Regions from separate parts of the Homo sapiens genome. Here all the other regions are linked to region 4. Evidence: fine-mapped expression QTL. A gene starts in region 4. Each other region holds a variant in brackets. All regions are shown on one strand. Distances are from middle to middle.

Region 1 (5,099 bases), 300 kb after region 4:
CCCAGTGCTTAAATGGAAAGGGTGTGTGTGTGTTTGGGGGGACAGGGTGGGAATCTATAGCCTTCACACTTAAATTTGGGGGTGTAGAGTCTGGCAACAAATATTTATTGTGCCCCACTCTGTGTAGGGCGGCGGGGAGCTCTCTGGGAGGGGGTGGTCCTGAGGTGTGTGTGGGGGGGCACCTTATGGGGGCAGGACCCCTTCCTCGGGGTATGGGAGCAAGCAGGGGCGGAGTCAGGATTTGGGGACTCGGAGGTGGGGAGGAGTGGTGGGGGAGGGCAAGGGTAGGGGGCGGAGCCGGCGGTGGTGGGGGATGGGCGAGGTTTGGGGGCGCGGGGAGGGGCGATGTCTCCTCCGCCGGCTCCCGGAGGGAGGGGAGAGGGCGGAGGGAGGGGAGGGAGGGAGAGAGGGAGGGAGAGAGACAGGGTGAGGGAGAGACAGCGAGAGCGAGAGAGCGAGAAGGGTGGCAGAGGAGGCGCGGAGCGGGCGGCGGCGGCGGCGGCCCGAGGAAGAGGAGGAGGAAGAGCAGGCGGAGACGCGGCGCCCGGAGCCGGCCGGACCGAGCCGGGGGCGGGCGAGGAGGGGCGCGGCGGCCGCGGCGGAAGGGGGGGCGCTCTGCGGATGGCCAGGCCCGGCCCGCGGGGGGGGTGAGGTCCTCGGCCCTCCCGCCCTCCCCCCCGGTCCCCGCCCGCCCCCTCCCCGGGCCCGCTCGCCCTCCGGGGCGGTGGGGCATGGCCTGAGGGTCCCCGTCTCCGGGGGGGTGGGGGGTGGGGGGAGGGGGGAGGGGCCGCGGGCGCCGCCGACCGGGACTCAGCAGCCCCGCCAGGCAGGTAAGGGGGTCGAGAACCTGGGGGTTTGGGGCAGCTGCGGGGCCGGGGCCGCGGGAGGGGGCGAGGGCGCCCCGGATGTCCTTGGCCCGGCGCCGGGCTCCTGGCCTGGGTGTGCGGCTGGGGGTACGGGTGAGGTGGGGAGCGTTGCCCTGGGCGACACCAAATTGGGTTACGCCCGGGTCCCCGGTGCCCCGTCCCAGATCGCATCCTTGATGGGAGGGCGCGCCCCCCACCCCCGGCCAGCAGAGCCCCTATCCCGAACCCGCCTCCCGGCTCTCCGGGGCCAAGGGCTCGGTCCTGGTACCCGCCTCCCCGCCCAGCCCGGCCACTCCCCCGCCTCGCCCTCCCTGGCGTACCTGGGCCCCTCCGCCAGGTCACCCTGGTCCCCACTCCCCTCCAGCGAGGGTCTAGGCCCGGGCCTCCTCCGCCCCTTTCGACCCCTCCAGCTCCCGCTTCTCCTTCCAGGCTCCTCCAGTCCCTTTCCACCCCTGTCCAAGCTCCCTGCGTCCCCACCAGGTCTCCAGTCCCTACACCGCCGGCCGGCGCGCCCCCTCGGCTCCCGCCCCCGACTCCTGCTCCCCGGTGCCCCCCGCCCCTCTCCCCGGCCGGGTTCTCCCCCACCAGTTTCCCAGCCTCGGCTCCGGCTCTCTCTCCCCGCCCCTCCCCGCCTCCCTCCGCCTCCATTCATTCTCCCCGGCCCCGCTCTCGGCCACGCCAGCCGCCCCCTGTCCCCCCACAGCCTCCCAGGGCACCCCCTCTCTCGCGTCCTCCACCACCCCCCTCGCCGATTCCTCAGCCCGTCTCGGTACCAGCTGCGTGCCAGCTATTCTTAGCCGCGGAGCGTTTGATTCATGCCGCCCCGGCGGAGCGTGCCCGCTCCCTCCCGCGAGCCCTGAGGGGGAGGGGCCGGAGCCGGCCCGGGGGGGCTGGGGCAGCCGTACGCGCGGGGGGCCCTAGCCAGCTTTTCTTTCATCCCACCGGCCACCCCCTCCGAGCGGGGTTGAGGCTGGGGGTCAGCCAGGGTCAGCCGAGGGGGAGTGTCTGCGGGCCCCAGATCGCGAGGTGGGCTGTGCGGCGGGGCAGGGAGGAGGCAGCCGGGGTCTCCGCAGGGACGAGGTGGGGCGGCGTGGCTGGGTACCTGGAGGGGGAGGGGGCTTCGCAGCGCTGCCGCGCGTGGGGGAGGGGTCCGCCGGCCCTGGGTTAGAGGCTCGCTCGCCCACACCTCCTGGAACTCTCCTCCCACCACACACATTTAGTCTTCCCTTTCCCAACCCCCCAGCCCATCCCCACTCCCCCAAAGTCAGCAGTACCCTCCACTGCTTCCCATCTCCATGGCAACGGTGCAGGAACCGGGCCTGGTGTTGGGGGGAGGGACCAGACCAGACATTCTGGTTTCCGGTGCTGGGGTGGGAGTTGGGGGAGAACAGAAGGGAGGCGGACCCCATTTGGAAGGGGCTCCACCCTCATAAGGCCACCTCAAGGGAGAACAGCAAGGATCTAGAGATGATCCCCCACTCAGTTCCCCAGACCCTCCTCTCACTTCTTAGCCTCCCTCCTAACACCCCCAGTCCTCAGAGTGGAGCCCCTAGTACCCAGCAAGCCAGCCCACCCACCCTGCAGTCCTAGAAAAGAGCTACAGGTCATCTGCAGCCACCCACATCTACCCGGGCCACCACACCACTGTCACCTGGACAGCACTCCCCAGGCCGACCTCCCCACCTACCC[G/A]CACACCCTCTCAAGATGCCCCAGTCTCCAAAAGCCACCTCTTGTGGTTCCCTTGGGGACACCCTAGGCCAAATGCTCTGCCCATGACACCCCCATCTCAGTGCCCCTTGCTCCCCTGGGACGGCAGATTCCCCAGCACTATTCGGCATGCCACGCGTTGTCAGCCACACTTGAGTGAAGTCACCAGCTCCACCCGCTCCAGGCTCACCACACCTCCCTCTCCCCCTTACTACATCTCAGTGTCAGCCTCAGCTTCTCCCCAACCCCACCCCCCGGCCCTGGGATGAGGGGCCAGGCTGGGGCCAGGAGGGCAGGATGCCTGTCAGTTTGTCCACCTGTCTGTCCTTAGCTAATTTTAGCTGCATTTTCTGTGGCCTGGCAAAGTGGGCCAGTAGCTCCCGCGGTGATTCTGCGGTTTCTGGGACACGGCCACGCTGGGTCACCAGCAAAGTGGGGCGCAGGGGGCGGGCTGCAAGCGGGGCCAAGGGCAGGGAAGGAGACACATGCCAGAAGCATGTCAGGGACAGGGGTGTGTGCGTGCCAGCGTGGGAGGAGGCGGCAGGGGAGGCCGTGCAGGCCGAGGGTGTGTCCAGCCTCCTTCCTGCCTATCTTGGGCAGTGGGGGTAGGCTGCCCTTGACCGCTTGACCACCGAATAGCGCCTGCGGCCTCTGAGGGGTCCCGGGCTCCTAGTCTGATGGCCGCCCTTGGCCCCTGCAGCCGCCTGTGATGCTGCCGTCCCCCGTCGCCCCGTGGCCCCACAATGACCCACAGCCCCGCGACAAGCGAGGACGAGGAACGCCACAGTGCCAGCGAGTGTCCCGAGGGGGGCTCAGAGTCCGACAGCTCCCCAGACGGGCCAGGTCGAGGCCCCCGGGGGACCCGGGGCCAGGGCAGTGGGGCACCTGGTAGCCTGGCCTCTGTTAGAGGCCTCCAGGGCCGCTCAATGTCCGTCCCAGACGACGCCCACTTCAGCATGATGGTCTTCAGGATTGGCATCCCGGACCTGCACCAGACAGTGAGTACCTGCCCACTGGCCAGCGGCAGGAGAGGGACAGTGCCCCAACCGACATGGGGAGTCCACTGGTGCTGGGTATCCTCCCAGGAATCACCCCCACACTCAGCTCCTGGCTCACTTCCCAACCCACCTCAGGCTCTCCTCTGGCCCCTGGCCCACCCTAGCCCCTATCTCTTCCCCAACCAGAAATGCCTTCGCTTCAACCCCGATGCCACCATCTGGACGGCCAAGCAGCAGGTGCTCTGTGCCCTGAGCGAGAGCCTGCAGGATGTGCTCAACTATGGCCTGTTCCAACCGGCCACCTCCGGCCGCGATGCCAACTTCCTGGAGGAGGAGAGGCTGCTGCGGGAGTACCCCCAGTCCTTTGAGAAGGGGGTCCCCTACCTGGAGGTGAAGCTTCCCCAACTCCTTCACTGATAAGAGAAGGCATGCCCTAAAACACATCTGCCCCCCACCCACTTTTTAACACACTCGAAACCTTAACGAGGGGGCACCCAGTGTGCGAGTCCAGACCTTCTAAGCATCACAGGGAAGTCAGAGAGTCCTGAGTTCAAATTACCATCTGTTCTGCTTCTGACCAGCTAAGTGGCCTTGGCCAAGTCACTTTCCTGCCCCAAGCTTCTCCTCACCCATCAAATTGGGGGAGGATTCCCAATTACAGTAGGCACTCTAGAACATTCCCTGTGGGGTCCAGACTCCTCCTCCTTCAAGGCAGGGGTTGCAGTGCACATATACCATAATACCCAGCACTGTCGGAAAAGCCACTGCCACCCATCTACCGCCTAGACCAAGGTTCCAGGGCTGTTTTCACTCCCACCCTGAGCTACCCCGGGGAATTAGAAGGGGATCAGACCTTCCCCTACCCCAAGCCTTCTCCCCAGGCCCCTGATTCCAAGTCTCTGTGTCTCTCTCACTACCCTACCCTTGACCTCAGTTCCGATACAAGACCCGAGTTTACAAACAGACCAACCTGGATGAGAAGCAGCTGGCCAAGTTGCACACGAAGGTGAGAAAACCCTGCTGGCATCTATCCCCTATAGCCCCCTACCACTGGAGCCCCCTACCCAACCACTTTCTCTCCCCACCTCTTCCCAATAGACCTCCACATTCCCCAAGCCAGCGATCCCTCTGGCCACTGCCCCCGCTTAACTTGGGATGCTGTACCACATTTGAGACAACCACAAATACCCCCCATTATCCCCATCACAACCCCTTCTTACTTTCCTCTTTTGCCCTTCATCCCTCTGCCTGGGCCCACATCATTCCCACCTGGCCTCCTTTGAGTCTCCCTTCTCTTCCCCTGCCTCCCCCCATATCCATCCAAGGCCTCTTTACTTCCCCACCTTGGCCTAGGACCCTGACACTGAAGGTCCTTCTGCCTAGAGTCTATTTCAAAGACAGGCTACATTTCTCCCAACCTCATAGCCTGAATCTCTGCAAAATCCAACCATTACACCCCCCTTTCCAGCCATATCTGTCCTCCTGGTACCTTGCCCGCCAGTCCTCAGCCCCTGTCTGTCCTGTGTCT
Region 2 (5,099 bases), 460 kb after region 4:
TACAAAATCAGCCAGGTGTGGTGGTGTGAGTCTGTAATCCCAGCTACTCAGGGGGCCGAGGCAGGAGAATCGCTTGAACCCGGGAGGCAGAGGTTGCAGTGAGCCGAGATCATGCCCATTGTACTCCAGCCTAGACGACAAGAGCAAAACTCCATCGCCAAAAAAAAAAAAACAAAAAAAAAAACCCTGGATGGAGAGGAGGAAGAGAGTGAGGCAGGGCAGGAGGGGGCAGCAGCCCCAGCCACTCCCAGGCTCACTGTGCCCCCCAGATGCTGCCCCAGCCCAGGGAGTTGAGCTTAGGCCCCAGAGTTCTTGTTCAAACACTACAACAAAGGTCAGAAGGCTGTGCAGCCACAGCTCCACTGCAGAGGCCAGCCCCAGGGGGTAAACGCAGAGGAGATTGGCCCTCCCCTTGCCTCAAACCCTCTCTCCAGAGCTGGAGATGACCATGATCGTAGCTAACTGATTGAGAGCATGCCACGAGCCAGGCTCAGTGCTCAGTCTCTTATGTGGATTTTTTCCGTGTATTCCTCAGGCAACCCTGCAAGGAGGCACAGTCATCATCCCTGGTTTGACAGATGGGGAAACTGAGGCCCAGAGAGGTGGGTCCCTTGCCCAAAATAGTACACCTAGAAATGGCAGAGCCGGGACTCCAAACCCTGGTGTGGGCCGCCCTGCAGGTCGCCTCCCTCCATGAGACTCCCAGTTTACAGAGGGGGAAACTGAGGCCAAGAGAGGAGAATGCACTGGTCCATTGGGCCCTAAAAGTGGAAATTCAATTTTTTTTTTTTTTTTTTGAGACAGGGTCTCACTCTGTCACCCAGGCTAGAGTGCAGTGGCGCGATCTCGGCTCACTGCAACCTCTGCCTCCTGGGTTCAAGCAATTCTCCTGCCTCAGGCTCCTGAGTAGCTGAGACTACAGGCACGCATCACTACTACACCTGGCTTATTTATTTATTTATTTATTTATTTGTATTTTATGGTAGAGACACCGTTTCACTGTGTTGGCTAGGCTGGTCTCAAATTCCTGACCTCAAGTGACCCACCTGCCTCAGCCTCCCAAAGTGCTGGGATTACAGGTGTGAGCCACTGCACTCGGCCATAAAATTGTTAATAATCACAATAATTAGGTTGTTAATAACAATACACTCATAGAAGGTTAGACTTTTGGAGTTGGGGGAGAACAGGGTCTTGCTCCGTTACCCATGCTGAAGTGCAGGGGCACAACCACAGCTCACTGCAGCCTTGACCTCCTGGGCTCAAGCGATCCTCCCGCCTCAGCCTCCCAAGTAGCAGGGATTACAGGCGTGCACCACCACACCCAGCTAATTTTTGTATTTTTTGTAGAGAGGGGGTTCTCACTATGTTGCCCAGGCTGGTCTGGAATTCCTGAGCTCATGCGATCCTCTTGCCTTGGCCTCCCAAAGTGCTGGGATTACAGGCATGAGCCACCACGGCCAACAAGTCTAGACTTTTGAAGGCATTGAAGCTGCTATAACTTAGGGGCTGTCAGGTTCTCAATCTTGTTTATGCCTCTCAAGCACCAGAAGGGAAAGGACTCCCCATGCTGATTCTCACAGTAGAGAATCAGCCCTCACCGACGTGGGGGTTGTAGGATCTTGTTGCGGGAAGGGCAAAGACCCCAAATGTGATCCCATGGGCCCCCCACTCCTTGACAGATGAGTGGTTTTGATCCAGCCAGAAATGCTGGATTTACAATGGCAGAGAAGTGGCGGGGTTGGGTGGGGAGGGGGCTGAGTCATGGAATGGGAAAACTGTTTGTTCTTCTGACCCGTAAGAATAAATACCGTTTTTTGTTTTTTTAAGACGGAGTCTCACTCTGTCACCCAGGCTGGAGTGCAGTGGTGCTATCTTCGCTCACTGCAACCTCCACCTCCCAGGTTCAAGCGATTCTCCTGTCTCAACCTCTTGAGTAGCTGGGATTACAGGCACGCACCACAGCGCCTGGCTAATTTTTTGTATTTTTAGTAGAGACGGGGGTTTCACTGTGTTGGCCGGCCTGGTCTTGAACTCCTGACCTCAAGCGATCC[G/A]CCCGTCTCGGCCTCCCAAAGTGCTGGGATTACAGGCGTGAGCCACTGCACCCGGCCGAGAATAAATGATAACTTTTAATGTAGCTGTCACTTAAGTGTCAAGCACTGTACATGGTCTCCAGGAACCCCAACAAGCTATTAATAGGTGTCATTATCTTCACAGACTGCAAGGCGGAGCCTGGGGCGGGGGACACAGGGAGAAAGTGGCCAGCCAGAGTTTCAACCCAGTTTTCCTCAACACCAACACTCTTTCCACCTCTCCATCCTTCCTCTTCACAGGACGGTGTGATGAGGTAGACGAGGAGAAGGAGGATCTTCTGGATCCTGGAATAAGTTCACTGAGCATTTTCCTTTTATGCCCCAGGCATTTCCCTAAACTCATCACAGATATCAGACCTTCCCCACCTACAGGTGAGCAGACCGAGGTCCTGAGGGGTGAAGCTCCCTTTGCAAGCCAACATGGCTAGTAACTGTGGCAGCTGAGGTTCAAACCCAGGTCTAGTTGATTCCAAGGCCCACCTTGAGCTACACCCCTATACAGAGCTCCGGAGAGGAGAGGAGGGGGCTTCATTCTTCATCCCGAAATGGAATATAGGAGTGAGATGGGCACTTAGAGACCCTTCAGCCCCTTGCTGTGAGACCTGCATCCCCTGGGAAACAGAATGACAGCCTCACCCTAGATATGGCGATGCAGAATCTGCAGTTTTTTGTTATTGTTATTGTTATTTTGAGACAGAATCTCACTCTGTCACCGAGGCTGGAGTACAGTGGTGCGATCTCGGCTCACTGCAACCTCCGCCTCCCAGGTTCAAGTGATTCTCCTGCCTCAGCCTCCCGAGTAGCTGGAACTACAGGCAGGTGCCTCCACGCCCAGCTAATTTTTGTATTTTTATTAGAGACAGGGTTTCACCATGTTGGTCAGGCTGGTGTCAAAACTCCTGACCTCAAGTGATCTGCCCGCCTCAGCCTCCCAGAGTGCTGGGATTACAGGCGTGAGCCACTGCGCCCGGCCAGAATCTGCCTCTTAACAAGATTCCCAGACAGCTGGACACACATTCATGTCTGAGAAGCATTGCTCCAGTTCACATAGTTTTCAGCTTTTTATGACTTTTAGCAGCACCCTTTTGTTGTAAACAAAATAACTATGCACAACCCTGTGAGAGAAAACAGATCGGATCAGCGTCCTTCCTAGGCAGGACCCCTATGAGTGGAGCTGGCGGGGGCCACGCCCCTCCCAACCTGCAAACTCGCTCTCACGCCCCACTGCCTGAGCCTTGGCAACAAATACTGTTGTAAAAACCACCAATGCCAGGCCAGGGCCCAGTTCTCTTCTGGGGTGAATTCAGTTCAGGGGTGTTAAGCCGCCCCATCCCAGCACAGAATCACAGTCCAGGGACCTGGAAGTTCAGTTTTTTTTCTTTCCTTTTTTTCAGACAGAGTCTCGCTCTGTTGCCCAGGTTGGAGTGCAGTGGCGCCATCTCAGCTCACTGCAACCTCTGCCTCCTCGGTTCAAGTAATTCCCCTTTCTCAGCCTCCCCAGTAGCTGGGATTATGGACGCCCGCCACCAGGCACGGCTAATTTTGTATTTTTAGTAGAGGTGGAATTTCAGCATGTTGGTCAGGCTGGTCTCAAACTCCTGACCTCAGGTAATCCGCCCACCTTGGCCTCCCAAAGTGCTGGGATTACAGGCGTGAGCCACCACCCCCGGCCCTCTTTTCTTTTTCTTTTTCTTTTTCTTTTTTTTTGGAAGTTCAGTTTTTATCTCAAAGCCTACCCAAATCTGGCTATCCATGGGTATGGCAGTGCCTCAGTGTGCCCTTCTGTAAAATGGGCAGCAGCAGCTCTCGCCATGGGCCCCTTGCGGGGACTGAATGAGCTCTTGCAGGCAGCTCCCGCAGCGCAGGCCTGGCACAGGCAACCAAGGCAGCGCTGGTCAGGTGCTCAGGCCTCAGACTCTCCATAACATTCCATTTCTCCAGCTGTGATCTCCCTGGCTTCTCCATGAGTCCCATAAGAGCCCTGTGAGGTAGCTGGGCAGGGCCAAGGAGCAGACGGAGCGGCACTTCAGGGACTCAGGCAGAAGCAGTTCCAAGCAGGATCAGTGGTTAGATCCATGCTGTCCAACACAGTAGCTGCCACAGCCACTGCCATGCATGAGCAGCAACAGTCACATCAAGTCGAATGAAGAATTCAGTCCCTGCTCCTTCTCGACATACGTCACGTGCTCCGTAGCCTCGTGTGGCTGGTGGCCACCAGTGCTGGACAGCACGGAGAGAACATTTGCATCATTGCAGAGAGTCTGTTTGACAGTGATGCATTGATATATTGAAATACAGCCGGGTGCCGTGGCTCACGCTTATAATCCAGCACTTTGGGAGGCTGAGGCAGGAGGATTGTTTGAGGCCGAGAGTTTGAGACCAGCCTGGGCAACATGGCAAAAGCTTATCTCTACAAAAATACAAAAAAATTAGCCGGGTGTAGTGGTCCACGCCTGTAGTCGGCTACTCAGGAGGCTGAGGTGGGAGGATCACCTGGGCCTGGGAGGTGGAGGCTGCAGTGAGCTGAGATCACGCCACTGCACTCCAGCAGAAATTTGTGTGATGTGTGTGTGTGTATGTATGTATGTGTGTGTGTATGTGTGTGTGTGTGTGTGTGTGTGTGTATGTATACAGTTGACCCCTGACCAACTTGGGGGCTAGGGGTGCCAGCCCCCTGTGCAGTTGAAAATCTGCCTGTAACTTTTGACTCCCCTAAAACTTAACTCCTAATAGTGTTCTGTTGATTGGACACCCTACCAATAACATAAACAGTCAGTTAACACATTCATGTTAAATGTATTCTATCCTGAATTCTGACAATAAAGTAAGCTAGAGAAAAGAAAATGTTATTGAGAAAATGCTAAGGAAGAGAAAATACATTTACTAGCCACTAAGTGGAGTGTATCATCGTAACGGGCTCCCCTGATTGTCTTCACGTTGAGTAGGCTGTGAGCAGGAGGAGGGGGCGGTTGTCTTGCTGTCTCAGGAGTGGCAGAGGCAGGAGAAAGT
Region 3 (5,099 bases), 110 kb before region 4:
ATTCCTACAAAAGATCAGTATACCCCAAAGTTGGTTCTTTGAAAGAACAAATAAGATTGATAGATCACTAGCTAGTCTAATAAAAAAGAGGGAACCAAAAGCTTTCATCATTTAAGAGTTTTTAATTTCTCTTTCATGAAAGGTAAATTTACATACAGTAAAATACATAGATTTTATTTGCGTGATTCAATGTGTTTTGATTCATAACCACATAATTACTATCCCAGTTAAGACATAGACTATTCCTAGGACTGGCTGGGCGCAGTGGCTCACGCCTGTAATCCCAGCACTTTGGGATGCAGAGGTGGTTGGATCACAGGGTCAAGAGATCAAGACCATCCTGGCCAACATGGTGGTCTTGGCCAACATGGTGGTCATCTCTATTAAAAATACAAAAATTAGCTGGGCATGGTGGCCCGTGCCTGTAATCCCAGCTACTCAGGAGGCTGAGGCAGGAGAATCGCTTGAACCCTGGAGGCGGAGGTTGCAGTGAGCCACTGCACTCCAGCCCGGCAACAGAGCTAGACTCCTTCTCAAAAAAAAAAAAAAAAAAAAAAAAAAAGAAAAGAAAGAAATAAAATTCCCAGGACCCCAGAAAGTTCCCCTGTGTGCCATTCACGTTAATCCCCAAATCCCACTCCCAACCTGAGGCAGTCACTGTTATGAATTTCTGTCTTTGTAGATTAGTTTGGCCTGTTCTTGAACTTCATATAAGTGAAACTACAGAGCATGTATTCTTTTGCATCTGGCTTCTTTGACTCAAGATGTTTTCAAAATTTATTCAAGCTATTGCATGTATTATATATTGTTATTATATATTGATGAGTATTATGCCGTTACATGGAAACATGTAATCAATTTTAAATATTAATTACTTAGATTTTTATATTATTTTCTCACTAAATGTAGGACATTTCAAGTGCTCAGTAGCCACATGTGGCTAGTGGTTACCATATCAAACAGCACAGTTGTACAAACATTATAGTCTCCGCTTTTACTTTTAGGTTTATGATTCGCTTCAGGCTAATTTTTTGCGTGTGATGTGAGAAACAGCTCAACACTCGTTTTTACCAACCCTAATTTCACTTGTTCCGCTAACATTTATTTTTTATTTATTTATTTATTTTCAAGATGGGGTCTCACTCTGTCGCCAGGCTGGAGTACAGTGGCACAATCTTGGCTCACTGCAACCTCTGCCTCCTGGGTTCAAGCAATTCTGCTTCAGCCTCCCTAGTACCTGGGATTACAGTTGCCTGCCACCACACCCAGCTAATTTTTTTTTTTTTTTTTTGTATTTTTGGTAGAGATGGTGTTTCACCATGTTATCCAGGCTGGTCTTGAACTCCTGACCTCAAGTGATCCACCCACCTCAGCCTCCCAAAGTGCTGGGATTACAGGTGTGAGCCACCGCGCCCGACCACCTACCAACATTTATTAAAAGTCTTTCCTGTCCCAATTGAATAGACTTGATGCTATTCAGTTGACTGTATATGTGTGGGTCCATTTGTAGACTGTACTCTAGTCCACACCACACTCTCTGTATTACTCTAGTGTTAAAGTCTGCCTTCTCTAAATGTGTTTCTTATCACAATGATTTGGTTATTCTAGGTTTTTATGTGTTTATATAAATTTCAGAACCAACTTATCAATTTATAACTATATATGTATATATATAAACTTATATTTACAATATACATACATATACACTCATCTATACTTATGTACATACATATACACATATACATATATTTTATATATATATAGGAATTTTGACAGGGATTACCTAAATCAATATGCAGACAACTGACATTTTAACCATTTTTGCCTTCTAATCCATGAACGTGATATATTTCTTCCTTCATTTGGGCCTTCCTTAAGTCTCTCAAAAATGTTCTATATTCATCAGTACAGAAGCATTCCGTGTTATCTTAGTTCATTTGTGTTGCTATAGAGTAATATCTGAGGCTGGGTAATTTATAAAGAAAAGAGGTTTATACAGCTTGTAGCTGCAGTGAACGCCAAGAATGAAGCACTCAGACAATTCCAGCTGAGCGGGATGCGGCGGCAGCAGCATCTCTGAAAGAGTGCCGCCCCAGAATCCGTCCGCCAAGTGTTTCTCGAAAGGGTTTGTTAAACCAAAATGTCCACCAGATGGCCTTTTGCGGTCGGGTCATGAGACACATATGGCCTGGTAAAAACACTCAGACTACAGTCTCAGGAG[G/A]CTGCTTTCCGCGCTCCTTATCACACATTCCGTTCCTTGCCCTGTTTTCAGGGTCAAGGAGTTTCAATCTCATGCACAAACAACACGCACACGGTGCCTCAGTATTTTTCCATGCCTCGACCTCAAATGCCTTGTACATAAGCTTGAATATGTTGCCGTGCACCCCCCACAGTTTATTTGGCTCACAGTTCTGCACCACATAGAAAATGCTTGGCACCAGCCTTTGCTTCTGGTGAGGGTCTCAGGAAGCTTCCACTCATGGTGGAAGGCAAAAGGAAGTCTGCATGTGCAGACAATACGGCAAGAGAGGAAGCACGGGCTGGGGAGGGGAGGTGCCAATGTCTTTTTAACACCCAGCTCTTGGAGAAACTCTCACAGGAAGTAACAGAGTGAGAACTCTCTCATTACCTTGAAGACAGCACCAAGCCATTCATGAGGGATCCAATCCCGGGACCTGAACACCTCCCATTTGGCCCCACCGCCAACACTGGGCATCAAATATCAACAGGAGGCTTGGCAGGGCCAAACAAACCATATCCAAACCATAGCATAGGATTTTTTTTTTTTTTTTTTGACACAGACTCTTGCTCTGTCGCCCAGGCTAGAGTGCAATGGCACAATCTCAGCTCACTGCAACCTCCGCCTCCCGGGTTCAAGCAATTCTCCTGCCTCAGCCTCCCAAGTAGCAAGGACTACAGGCATACGCCACCTCGCCTGGCTAATTTTTGTATTTTTAGTAGACATGGGGTTTCACCATGTTGGCCAGGCTGGTCTTGAACCCCTGACCTGAAGTGATTTGCCCTCCTCAGCCTCCCAAAGTGTTGGGATGACAGGCGTGAGCCACCACGCCCAGCTCGGATATGATTTTTTACTTATTTATTTATTTATTTATTTATTTTTTTTGAGACGGAGTCTCGCTCTGTCTCCCAGGCTGGAGTGCAGTGGCACGATCTCAGCTCACTGCAAGCTCCACCACCCGGGTTCACGCCATTCTCCTGCCTCAGCCTCCCGAGTAGCTGGGACTACAGGCACCCGCCACCACGCCCGGCTAATTTTTGTATTTTTAGTAGAGACAGGGTTTCACCATGTTAGCCAGGATGGTCTCGATCTCCTGACCTCGTGATCTGCCCACCTCGGCCTCCCAAAGTGCTGGAATTACAGGCGTGAGACACTGTGCCCGGCCATGATTTTTAAAAAATTGTTCCTTGGTACTTTACGGTTTTTTGATGCTGCCGTAAATGGGCAAGAGTCTAGATTTAGGGAAGTTTTAGTGCTTCCTCCAGTCCTTTGATTTCTTCCTATCAGGGCTACTGCATAAAGTGATTGTTGTGAGATGTCCCTTTCCTCGTTCGGGTGCTGCATGTAGGTAAATTTTTTTGGATCATGTTGTTTAATTTGCCAGATGATCCTGTGCCCCTTTGGAAACGTTTCTCATTCCCTGGGTTTGGCTTTAGAGGAGGGAGATCATGAGCTGCTGCTTCACTCTCTCCCTCAGCTCAACCCAGAAGTCCAATCCTTGAACTCCATTTTCAAAGACAGAGACAGAAGAAGGCCCAGGAGGAGGGCGTTCTAGGAGGAGGGTCCCCAGTGTGCAAGGACTGAGGTATGAACCAACAGGGCATGTTGCAAATGATTTGGAAAAGACCAGAGGGACCAGTGGGTTAAGTGGTGAAGATGGAGGAGTGGACTGAAGTGGGAGAGTGATGTCACGAAGAGGATGTGATGGGAGGTTCAGGATCCAGGAGCCATGGATGGGCTGTGAGCAGTGCGGAGAGAGCTCAGTGTGTCCTAAAGATTCCCACTGGACTGTGCACAATACGTAGACTGCAGAGAGTAAGGCGGCCTAGCAGTCACAGGGTGGGCAGATGAGGCTGAAGAGGTGGGCAGGATCCAGATGCTACCTAGACCTGATTTGCAGGCTGAGGTTATTTCCTGGAAAGTTGCAGAATCGCTATTTTGCAGGCAAGTGACACAGACATATAAGTACTAGTTGCCACCAGAATCAGGAGAGGTTCCCAGCAGGACCTTTGTGTTCAAAGCACAGCGATCCATCAGTGCTCGGCATACACCTGTGCCAGGAGCTCTAACGGGATGTGACTCCTGGAATGGTGACCACAACCTTGCAAGTAGGGCTTCTCATTCCTGTTTTACAGAGCAGGAAACCAAGGTACAGAGAGGTAGGAATTTGTCTGTCTTTTAGTTAAAAAAATAAAAGGGAGGGCACAGTGTGGATTCAGGTTTGAGATACTTTGACTCTAAAGCCTGTGTGCTTTTCACTCTGCACATAATTCATAGTGTTATCATAGCTCATCACGTTGAGGGCTGTTAATTCTACAAGAATCAGCCTCTGACTTCTCCCTTGCCTGGAGGGGCTGTGATCCCTCAATCAGGGTGAGTCTCTGCAGTTTCTCATCTGTGGATCTTGATCTCCGAGTACTCGGTGTCAGTGGCCTCCTGTCCCCGCGAGTCCCAAGGCTTCACCATCTGGAAGCTGAGGGATGCATACTGGAGCTCTCCTTCCCCCACTGAGGAGCGGGCAGAAGCTGGGGGAGGCTGGTCTGGGGGACTGTCTTCTGCCCAAGGTTCAGTCAGGGGCCCCTGAGACATGGGAGAGAGAAGTGAGTCAGAGCAGACAGTGAGGATGGGGCGCGGTGGCTCACATCTGTAATCCCAGCTCTTCAGGAGGCTGAGGTAGGCGGATCACCTGAGGTCAGGAGTTTGAGACCAGCCTGGCCAACATGGTGAAACCCTGTCTCTACTAAAAATACAAAATTAGCCAGGTGTGGTGGTGTGCACCTTTAATCCCAGCTACTCAGGAGGCTGAGGCAGGAGAATCGCTTGAACCTAGGAGGCAGAGGTTGCAGTAAGCCAAGATTGT
Region 4 (5,099 bases):
TGAGACCTGGATTCAAATTCTGCCTTGAAATATTGTGACTCTGGGAATGACAACACCTGGTTTGTTCTCTGTTGTATCCCCAGCCCCAAAGACAGCTCCTGGCCATATATCAAGGTTTCAATAAATATTTGCTAAATGAGTGAATCTACTGAGTGCTTACTATGTGCTAGACCCTGATCCAATGGCTTTTATTTTATTTTATTTTTTGACAGAGTCTCGCTCTGTCACCCAGGCTGGAGTACAGTGGTGCTATCTCTGCTCACTGCAACCTCCACCTCCTGGGTTCAAGCAATTCTCCTGCCTCAGCCTCCTGAATAGCTGGGATTACAGGTGCCTACCACCACATCCGGCTAATTTTTGTATTTTTTAGTAGAGATGGGGCTTCACCATGTTGGCCAGGCTGGTCTCGAACTCCTGACCTCAGATGATCTGCCCTCCTTGGCCTCCCAAACTCCTGGGATTACAGACGTGAGCCACCGCGCCCGCCCGGCTTTCATTTATTAATTAAAAGAAATTAAATTAATTAATCTATTTAGGAGACAGTCTTGCTCTGTTGCCCAGGCTGGAGTGCAGTAACAATCACAGCTCACGGCAATCTCAATTTCCTGGGGTCAAGTGATTGTCCTCCCTCAGCCTCCAGAGTAGCTGGGACTACAGGCACATGCCACGAAGCCCAGCTAATTTTTGTATTTTTCGTAGAGACAGAGGTCTCAGTATGTTGCCCCGGCTAGTCTCAAACTCCTGGGCTCAAGCAGTCTGTCCTCCTCAGCCTCCAAAAGTGGTGAGATTACAGGCATGAGTCGCTGTGCCTGGCCTCCAAGCACTTTCAAATGTATCAACTTAATCCTCACAAAACCCTGTGAGGTCGGTACTGTTTTCATACCTATTTTATAGTTGAAGAAACAGACACAGAGAAGCAAAGTCACTTGCTCACAGTCACGTGGCTAGGAGAGCAAGGATCTGAAGCAAGGCGATCTCTTAATTACCAAGTGATGTTCCTGGAGTAAGGCTCTGTTTGTTTCCTTTCCTGTAAAATGCTGCATGCAAAAGTATAACACAGTAAGTAAAGAAGTCAGTTAGCCTGCACATACTAAGACCTAACCAAAGGAGCTTATTGTTTTTCTCCAACTTCCATGATAGGTAATTAGATAGTGGAGACCTCTGCTGGCCAATATGGTAGCCACTAACCGCAGCTGGCTCTTCCAATTAAAATTACATAAAGCCAGAAATGTAACTCCTCTGTCTCACTTGTTATATCTCCAAGGCTGGATAGCCACATGTGACTGGTGGTGGCTGGATTAGCTAGTGCATATAAAACATCACTGCAGAAAGTTCAGCTGAGCAGCACTGAGTTAGATGGCCTCTGAAGAGGATGTCCCACGGAGAGAATCCAGAACTCAGGATCTTTTTTTTTTTTTTTCTTTGCGACAGAGTCTTGCTCTGTCACCCAGGCTGGAGTGCAGTGGCGTGATCTCGGCTCACTGCAACTTCTGCCTCCCAGGTTCAAGCAATTCTCCTGCCTCAGCCTCCCTAGTAGCTGGGACTACAGGCCTGTGCCAACATCCCCAGCTAATTTTTGTGTCTTTTTAGTAGAGATGGGGTTTCACTATGTTGGCCAGGCTGGTCTCGAACTCCTGACCTCGTGATCCGCCCCCCCTTGGCCTCCCAAAGTGCTGGGATTACAGGCGTGAGCCACCGCGCCCGGCCAGCTCAGGATCTTTTGGGATGGTCTGTTCACCTCGCAGAAGTGGCTGGCATGAGCAATAGGAGCCCAGAGTGGAACCAGGGCCTTCTGGTTGTCAAGTGGACTTGCTGTGTGACCTCCTGTGAGTCTCTGCCCTCTCTGAGCCTCTCACTCCTCACCTGAGATGAGGGAGTTGGCTGAGGTGATGCCGATGCCCCTCACAGCTTTGACCTCCTATGATTCAGGGGCCTGTGTGTCACCTGGTGGCACACAGATGGCAGGGAGGGTGTGAGATGGCCACACATGGGTATGAGGCAGAGCCACAGCCCCCCCCAACACGCACATGGGCTAGTCACTGGGACACACACAGAGCTCACTCACGGCCACAGAGTGGGCGTGGGTTTCCCTTTTTCCTTGTTTCTGTTTCTCTTAGCCTCGGCGCCTCCCTCCCTCCCTCTCTCTCTCTCTCTCTCTCTCTCTCTCTCTCTCTCTGGCTCTTTTAGCCTTGGTTTGTTACAATCTCCCTTTTCAAGCCAGCCTCTGTCCCTCCTACTCAACCTGCTTTATCTCTAGGCCTTCCTCCTTCCTCTTCCACAGTCTGGCTTCTCACATTGTCACTCTAGGTATGCACTTCCCATTGATTTCCTCTTGCTCAGTGGCCTCTCATCCTGCCACCCCTAGCCTTGCTGGGGACGTGAACCCTCTCCCCGCGCCTGGGAAGCCTTCTTGGCACCGGGACCCGGAGAATCCCCACGGAAGCCAGTTCCAAAAGGGATGAAAAGGGGGCGTTTCGGGCACTGGGAGAAGCCTGTATTCCAGGGCCCCTCCCAGAGCAGGAATCTGGGACCCAGGAGTGCCAGCCTCACCCACGGTACAATTAGACAGAGGGAAAGGGAGGGAGCCCGGGGGTGGGGGTAGGGGAGGGTGGAGAAGCTTCCGGACTCCTTGGGGTTAAAAGGGAAGGTCCCGCCAGGGGTCCCTGGGCAGAGGATACCAGCGGCAGACCACAGGCAGGGCAGAGGCACGTCTGGGTCCCCTCCCTCCTTCCTATCGGCGACTCCCAGGTGAAGCTACCTGCACCCCACCCGGGTTGGGGTGGATTGCGAGAGGATGGGTGGGGACCCCCGGGCCACAGGCAGGAGCCGGCTTAGAGCCTCGGTTTCTCCACCTGCGGGACGCGGAAGTCCCCCCGCTGTGAGGTTGAGAAAGAGGCTCCCACTGGCTCCGAGCCTCGGATCCCCACCCCGCGCGTGAAGGAGGGGGAAACCTCGGGCGCGGCGTGGCTGCAGCCAGGGTAGCTGGGGCGCGGAGAGCGCTCCACTCGGGCACAGGGAGGACGGGAAGATGCCGCGAGGGGCGTCATTAGGGTAATTGTGCCCATTACCGCTGTTCCAGCCCGAATCTCCCGTCTGCCAGCCCCTGGGGTTATCGGCTGCAGGTCAAAAGGGTGCTTGCGGGCTGGGGTGGCCCAGGCTGGGCGGATGAGCGCGGCGAGGTGGGGGTCTCTAACGGAGCATCTGTTTTAACCCGCCCCTGCACACACCCCAGCAGATCCTGGCCATGAGAGCTCCGCACCTCCACCTCTCCGCCGCCTCTGGCGCCCGGGCTCTGGCGAAGCTGCTGCCGCTGCTGATGGCGCAACTCTGGGGTAAGGTCGGGGGCAGGGGGCGGGGAGAGGCGCCGGTGGGAGGCACGGGCGGGAGGAGAATGTGTTCCCGTCACCAAGCCCCGCGCACCTCTCCTCCCCCGAGACCCCAGCACCCACCCAGCGCTCCGGAGCACGGCCCGCCCCCAAGTCAGCTGGGCCCTTCTTCTGGCTCGGCCCCTGGGTGACCCGCCCCACTCAGGCCCTGTCCGATTTCTGCCACCCGGATCCTCGCTCTTCCGTGGACTCTTCGCCGCGTTCTTTCTCCTCCTCTTACGCCGCCCCATCCCGGCCCCGCTCCATTTTACACTACCGTGTTTTGTTTTGTTTGTTTGTTTGTTTGAGACGGAGTCTCGCTCTGTCGCCCAGGCTGGAGTGCAGTGACGCGATCTCGGCTCACTGCAAGCTCCGCCTCCCGGGTTCACACCATTCTCCTGCCTCAGCCTCCCGAGTAGCTGGGACTACAGGCGCCCGCCACCAAGCCCGGCTAGTTTTTTGTATTTTTAGTAGAGATGGGATTTCACCGTGGTCTCGATCTCCTGGCCTCGTGATCCGCCTGCCTCGGCCTCCCAAAGTGCTGGGATTACAAGCGTGAGCCACCGCTCCCGGCCACACCACCGTGTTTTATCCTGAGTCTTGCCTTACCGCTTTTTGCCCTCTCCCCTCACTTTTTTTCTTCCTCTTTCCCTTTCTCTCTCTTTTTTCTTTTTCTTTCTTTCTTTTCTTTCTTTCGTTCTTCTTTTCCTTCCTTCCTTTCCTTCCTTCCTTTCGTTTGTTTCTTCTTTCTTGTTTTACTTTCTCTCTTATTTTTTCTTCTTTCTTTCTTGTTTTTTTCTTTCTCTCTCTTTTTCTTTCCTTCTTTTTTTTTTTTTTTTTTTTTTGAGACAGGGCAGTGCTCTGTCTCCGTGGCTGGAGTACAGTGGCCCAATCAGAGCTCACTGCAGCCTCGACCTCCTGGGCTCAAGCGATACTCAGCCTCCAGAGTAGCTGGTACCACAGGCATGCACCACCACATCCGGCTTTTTTTTTTTTTTTTTTTTTTTTTGAGACAGGGTCTCACTCTGTCGCCCAGACTGGAGTGCAGTGGCCCAATCTCGGCTCATTGCAACCTCCACCTCCTGGGCTCAAGCGATCCTCCCACCTCAGCCTCCCAGGTAGCTGTGACTACAGGCGCATGCCTCCGCGACTACTTTTTTGTTGTTGTTGTTGTTGTTTGTTTGTTTTTGTAGAGACTGGGTCTTGCTGTGTTGCCCGGGCTGGTCTTGAATTCCCGAGCTCAAGCGGTCCAACCGCCTCGGCTTCCCAAAGTGCTGGGATTACAGGCGTAAACCACTGCGCCCCACCCCTCTCCTGGTTTTCAATCCCGTTTTGTTATTCACACCCCTTCCTCTCCCCGATCCCCGAGTTCTATCCCCGCACCCTTACCTCCCCGCCGCGTTCAATCCCCGCCCCTCTATCGACCAGCGACGTTCTAGCCAGCTCTCCAGGCGCGCTGCGTTCAGTCCCTGCCCTCCAGACCCACCCTATTCTGTCTCATTACTCCACGCTACCCTATCCCAGCTTCCTTCCACTTTCACGCGCTTCTTCTCCTCCCATTCCCTTCGGTGCACGCGAAACCCCCAATATTTCCCTACCACCCTCGCGTTCTGGCTGCGTCCCCCGTCCCCGAACGCAGTCCAGTGCCACAGCCCAGCTCCAACCCCAAACCCAGACCCTGCCCTCCGTGCTTTGATTCCGTCCCCTTTCTTTCTCCAGCCGCAGAGGCGGCGC
Region 5 (5,099 bases), 43 kb after region 4:
CCCTCTTTCTCTTGCTTCTCTCTCTCTCCTCCCCTCCCTCTCTCCTCTCCCTGCCCCCCTGCTCTCTCTTTTTTCCTCTCTCTCTGTCTCCTCTCTGGCCCTCTCCTCTTTCTCTCTCTCCCCCACTTCTCTGTCTCTCTTCATCTCTCTCCCTCATCTCTCCTTGCCCCCTCCTTTTTACTGTCTCTCTCTTTCTCTTTCTTCTATCTCTCTCCTCTCCCTGCCGCTCCCCCATCTCTGTCTTTCTTTCTCTCTCTTTATTCTCCTCCTCTCTTCCAGTCTCTCTCTCCTCTCCCCACCCCCACCCCATCTCTCTCCCCACACCTTCCCCCCCTTTCTCTTTGTCTCTCTCTTCTCCCTCTTTCTTCTCCACCCCCATCTCTCTCTCTCTTCTCTTCCCACACCCTCCCCATCTCCCTCATCTCTTTGTCTGTCTCTCTTCTCCCTCCTTCTTTTCCACCCCCATCTCTCTGTCTCTCTCTCTCCCCATACCCTTTCCCTCTTCCTCATCTCTCTTTGTCTCTCTCTCCTTTCCCTCTTTCTTCTCCACCTCCAACTCTCTCTGTCTCTCCACACCCATCCTCCTTGCTCACATCTGCACCTTCAGCTGTCAGGGGATGTGGGATGGTGAGTGTTAGGGATAGAGGAGATGGGAGAGAGATGACTGTCCTAGAGAATAGGGTGTTCCCCTTCTCCCCTGGTGAGGGCCAGTTTCATGAATGTGCAAGCTCTGCACGGACACAGAGCCCCACACTCAGAAGGGTCTCAAACTTAGTCTAATGCATTCCTGCTGTTGTCTTGAAATTCTCAATAATTTTTGAACAAAGGGCCCTGCATTTTCGTTTTGCACCAAGTCCTGTAAATTATGTAACTGGTCTTCACCCTGGTCTCCGAGACCATCGTGTCCCCCTTTCCTGCGCCACAGGGCACGCATCCACCCCTTGGAGATGATGTTCCTTCTCCCACTAGCTTGGAGCAGGGTCCTTAACATTGGAAAATAAAGAGTGCTCTGATCCTGGAAGCCCCACCCCTTCTCTGCAATTGGTCTCATTGGCCAAGGGTCAAACCAGTGTCTTCAAAGGACCTAGTGTGTCCCTAGCACTAGCTCTCCCATTAGTCCCCAGAGACAATGAGTCTCTTCTCATTGGCTATGGTGGAAGTCCATAATCTGCAAGACAAAGACCGATAACTGAGGAATGTATGAGAATGAGTTGGGCTTTGATCTGAAGCCAAAGTTAATCTCCGGCTCTATTCCCTCTAGGGTGACTCAGGGGGACCGTTGGTGTGCAGAGGTACCCTGCAAGGTCTGGTGTCCTGGGGAACTTTCCCTTGCGGCCAACCCAATGACCCAGGAGTCTACACTCAAGTGTGCAAGTTCACCAAGTGGATAAATGACACCATGAAAAAGCATCGCTAACGCCACACTGAGTTAATTAACTGTGTGCTTCCAACAGAAAATGCACAGGAGTGAGGACGCCGATGACCTATGAAGTCAAATTTGACTTTACCTTTCCTCAAAGATATATTTAAACCAACCTCATGCCCTGTTGATAAACCAATCAAATTGGTAAAGACCTAAAACCAAAACAAATAAAGAAACACAAAACCCTCAGTGCTGGAGAAGAGTCAGTGAGACCAGCACTCTCAAACACTGGAACTGGACGTTCGTACAGTCTTTACGGAAGACACTTGGTCAACGTACACCGAGACCCTTATTCACCACCTTTGACCCAGTAACTCTAATCTTAGGAAGAACCTACTGAAACAAAAAAAATCCAAAATGTAGAACAAGACTTGAATTTACCATGATATTATTTATCACAGAAATGAAGTGAAACCATCAAACATGTTCCAAAAGTACCAGATGGCTTAAATAATAGTCTGGCTTGGCACAACGATGTTTTTTTTCTTTGAGACAGAGTCTCTGTTGCTTGGGCTGCAATGCAGTGATGCAATCTTGGCTCACTGCAACCTCCGCCTCCTGGGTTCAAGTGATTCTCGTGCTTCAGCCTCCCAAGTACCTGGGACTACAGGTGTGCACCACCACACCAGGCTAATTTTTTGTGTATTTTTACTAGAGACAGGGTTTCACCATGTTGGCCAGC[A/G]TGGTCTTGAACGCCTGACCTCAGATGATCCACCCACCTTGGCCTCCCAAAGTGCTGGGATTACAGGCATGAGCCACCACGGCCAGCCCACAATGATATTACAAACCTATTAAAAATGATACTTAGACAGAATTGTCAGTATTATTCAAGAACATTTAGGCTATAGGATGTTAAATGACAAAAGGAAGGACAAAAATATATATGTATGTGACCCTACCCATAAAAAATGAAATATTCACAGAATCAGATCTGAAAACACATGTCCCAGACTGCATACTGGGGTCGTCATGAGGTGTCTCCTTCCTTCTGTGTACTTTTCCTTGAATGTGCACTTTTATAACATGAAAAATAAAGGTGGGGAAAAAAGTCTGAAGATCTAAGATTGGAGAGAGGTGACCTTTCAGGAAGGGAGACTAGAAAGAAATATGTGCCTGGTTTTGAGCCCTGGTCCTGCCGGCCCTGTTCCAGGGCATATTTCCATTTCCCAGATCTCAGTTTTTCCTGTCTGTAAAATGGGAGAGAGAGGAAAGGATGGAGAGAGGAAGAAGGAAGGGAGGAGGGAGGAGAGAACAGGCCAACTTCATCAGCGTGGGAAGGGGTGTGAAAGTGTTTCTGAGCATCTCACGAGTGACAAGTGAGGAGGGAGGCTGGCGGTTTTCAGAGGGATTGGGATGACAGTAGACAGGACACAGGGGTCCCACGGGGGTCTGCCAGAAGTAAGCAAACAGTGCCGGAGGAAGATGGTGGCACCTGCTCCCCAAGAAGGGAGGGAAAGGAACCTCGGGAAGCGGGTAGGATGAGGGAGGAGTCCTCTGTGACTCAGAGCCTGGCCACAGCCCCAGCCATCTAACATCAAAGATCCTCTGTGTGGTCACACCTCAGACGCTGCTGACCGAGGAGCCACTCCAGCCCAGGACACGCCCTCCTACCTGTTCTTCCTGTTTTTCTCCCAGAATTCCCTCCCCACCAAGATCCTCCAGATCCTTCCCCTCCTTATCTCATCTCCCTCTGAGTCTCTCCTAACCCAGGCACCACAGCCCTGTCATATTGCAGAAATTCTGCAGCCGCTAATTCTGATTCTCCCATATAGGAGGCTAACACAGAAAACGCAGGAGTCCAGGCCCCCAGCCCCTCCTCCCTCAGACCCAGGAGTCCAGACCCCCCAGCCCCTCCTCCCTCAGACCCAGGAATCCAGACTCCCCCCAGCCCCTCCTCCCTCAGACCCAGGAGTCCAGAACCCCAGCCCCTCCTCCCTCAGACCCAGGAATCCAGACTCCCCCCAGCCCCTCCTCCCTCAGACCCAGGAGTCCAGACCAGCCCCAGCCCCTCCTCCCTCAGACCCAGGAGTGCAGGCCTGCCCCCACGAGCCCCTCCTCCCTCAGACCCAGGAATCCAGACTCCCCCCAGCCCCTCCTCCCTCAGACCCAGGAGTTCAGAACCCCCCCCACCAGCCCCTCCTCCCTCAGACCCAGGAATCCAGACTCCCTCCAGCCCCTCCTCCCTCAGACCCAGGAGTTCAGACCCCCCTGCCAGCCCCTCCTCCCTCAGACCCAGGAATCCAGACTCCCCCCCAGCCCCTCCTCCCTCAGACCCAGGAGTCCAGACTCCCCCCCAGCCCCTCCTCCCTCAGACCCAGGAGTCTAGACTACCCCCAGCCCCTCCTCCCTCAGACCCAGGAGTTCAGACCCCCCCCCCCGCCAGCCCCTCCTCCCTCAGACCCAGGAGTCCAGACCGCCCCCAGCCCCTCCTTCCTCAGACCCAGGAGTCCAGACTCCCCCCAGCCCCTCCTCCCTCAGACCCAGGAGTTCAGACCGCTCCCCGCCGCCAGCCCCTCCTCCCTCAGACCCAGGAATCCAGACTCCCCCCAGCCCCTCCTCCCTCAGGCCCAGGAGTCCAGATCCCCCCCAGCCCCTCCTTCCTCAGACCCAGGAGTCCAGACCCCCCGCCCCAACCCCTCCTCCCTCAGACCCAGGAGTCCAGGCTCCCCCCCAGCCCCTCCTTCCTCAGACCCAAGAGTCCAGACCCCCCGCCCCAACCCCTCCTCCCTCAGACCCAGGAGCCCAGGTCCCCAGCCCCTTCTGTTTCTGGGCCTGTCAAGTTTAAGAATGTCAAACATTTTCGACCAGTCATTCCCCTGAAGTTTTAGCAACATTTTCTCTCTCTTCTGCAAGGCACTCCAACATTCAATCTGGAATTTTAAAAAGTAACAAAACATTGCATTTGCACTAAGTCAGCCTGGAGATCCCTGGCCCTGGCCCTCTGCTCTCCTATACGCAAGCTACAGGTAGATTGGTTTGCAATGACTGAGATGGTACTAATGTTGATTTTTTTTAAGTAATTCATTTTTCTTTGGGTAAGCAGTATAGTGTGGTAGTTAAGGGACTAGCTCTGGATCTTGGCTTCTTGGGTTCAAATCCCAGTTCTAGTCCCTACAAGCTATTTTCCTTTAAGCTCATTACTTCCCCTGTCCCTGTTCCTTCATCCTTGAAATGGGAGAAAAAGCACCTACTTTCTAGGGTTATTACAGAGATTCAATAAGTTAATATACAGAAAGTGCTCAAACATTGTGTGGCACGAGGTAAGCCTTCCTTCAATGGTCATTGGTTTTAGTTTAGTTTAGTTTAGTTTAGTTTTTCTTTTTTTTTGAGACAAAGTCTTGCTCTTGTCACCCAGGCTGGAGTGCAATGGCGCGATCTCAGCTCACTGCAACCTCTGCCTCCCAGGTTCAAGTGATTCTCCTGCCTCAGCCTCCTGAGTAGCTGGTATTACAGGTGCCTGCCACCATGCCCGGCTAATTTTTGTATTTTCAGTAGAGACCAAGTTTCACCACGTTGGCCAGGCTGTCCTCAAACTCCTGACCTCAGGCAATCTGCCCGCCTTGACCTCCCAAAGTGCTGAGATTACAGGCATGAGCCACCGCGCCTGGCCCAGGCATTGGTTTTTATTGTTTATGACTTCTGGCACTTTTTTCTGCTTACAGTCTCATGAAGTTTC

The links. PIP is the estimated chance that this variant, and not a neighbour inherited with it, causes the effect.
Region 1: its variant is fine-mapped to the expression of KLK10 in cerebellum (GTEx, PIP 0.98).
Region 2: its variant is fine-mapped to the expression of KLK10 in esophagus muscle (GTEx, PIP above 0.99).
Region 3: its variant is fine-mapped to the expression of KLK10 in atrial appendage (GTEx, PIP above 0.99).
Region 5: its variant is fine-mapped to the expression of KLK10 in lung (TOPMed, PIP above 0.99).

The regions. Positions count from the first base shown.
Region 1 is chr19:50,715,137-50,720,235 of GRCh38, reverse strand. It overlaps SHANK1 (SH3 and multiple ankyrin repeat domains 1), which reads left to right and starts at 434. Exons shown (of 24, transcript NM_016148.5): 1 at 434-830; 2 at 3,274-3,571; 3 at 3,758-3,961; 4 at 4,506-4,577. The coding sequence starts at 3,317. The variant G/A (reference allele first, on the strand shown) is at 2,556.
Region 2 is chr19:50,557,816-50,562,914 of GRCh38, reverse strand. All of the region lies in intron 1 of LRRC4B (leucine rich repeat containing 4B), which reads left to right. Among named protein-coding and RNA genes, the nearest start is that of LRRC4B, 8.1 kb to the left of the region's middle. The variant G/A (reference allele first, on the strand shown) is at 2,052.
Region 3 is chr19:51,129,611-51,134,709 of GRCh38, reverse strand. It overlaps SIGLEC9 (sialic acid binding Ig like lectin 9), which reads right to left. Exons shown (of 7, transcript NM_014441.3): 7 at 4,400-4,819. The coding sequence ends at 4,631. Among named protein-coding and RNA genes, the nearest start is that of SIGLEC9, 7.3 kb to the right of the region's middle. The variant G/A (reference allele first, on the strand shown) is at 2,222.
Region 4 is chr19:51,017,276-51,022,374 of GRCh38, reverse strand. KLK10 (kallikrein related peptidase 10) reads left to right here and starts at 2,666. Exons shown (of 6, transcript NM_145888.3): 1 at 2,666-2,748; 2 at 3,236-3,332; 3 at 5,085-5,099. The coding sequence starts at 3,245. KLK11 (kallikrein related peptidase 11) reads left to right here. Exons shown (of 6, transcript NM_001136032.3): 6 at 1-139.
Region 5 is chr19:50,973,854-50,978,952 of GRCh38, reverse strand. It overlaps KLK7 (kallikrein related peptidase 7), which reads left to right. Exons shown (of 6, transcript NM_005046.4): 6 at 1,262-2,485. The coding sequence ends at 1,417. It overlaps LOC105372442 (a long non-coding RNA gene), which reads right to left. Exons shown (of 7, transcript XR_007067308.1): 7 at 4,227-4,293. Among named protein-coding and RNA genes, the nearest start is that of KLK6, 6.8 kb to the right of the region's middle. The variant A/G (reference allele first, on the strand shown) is at 2,106.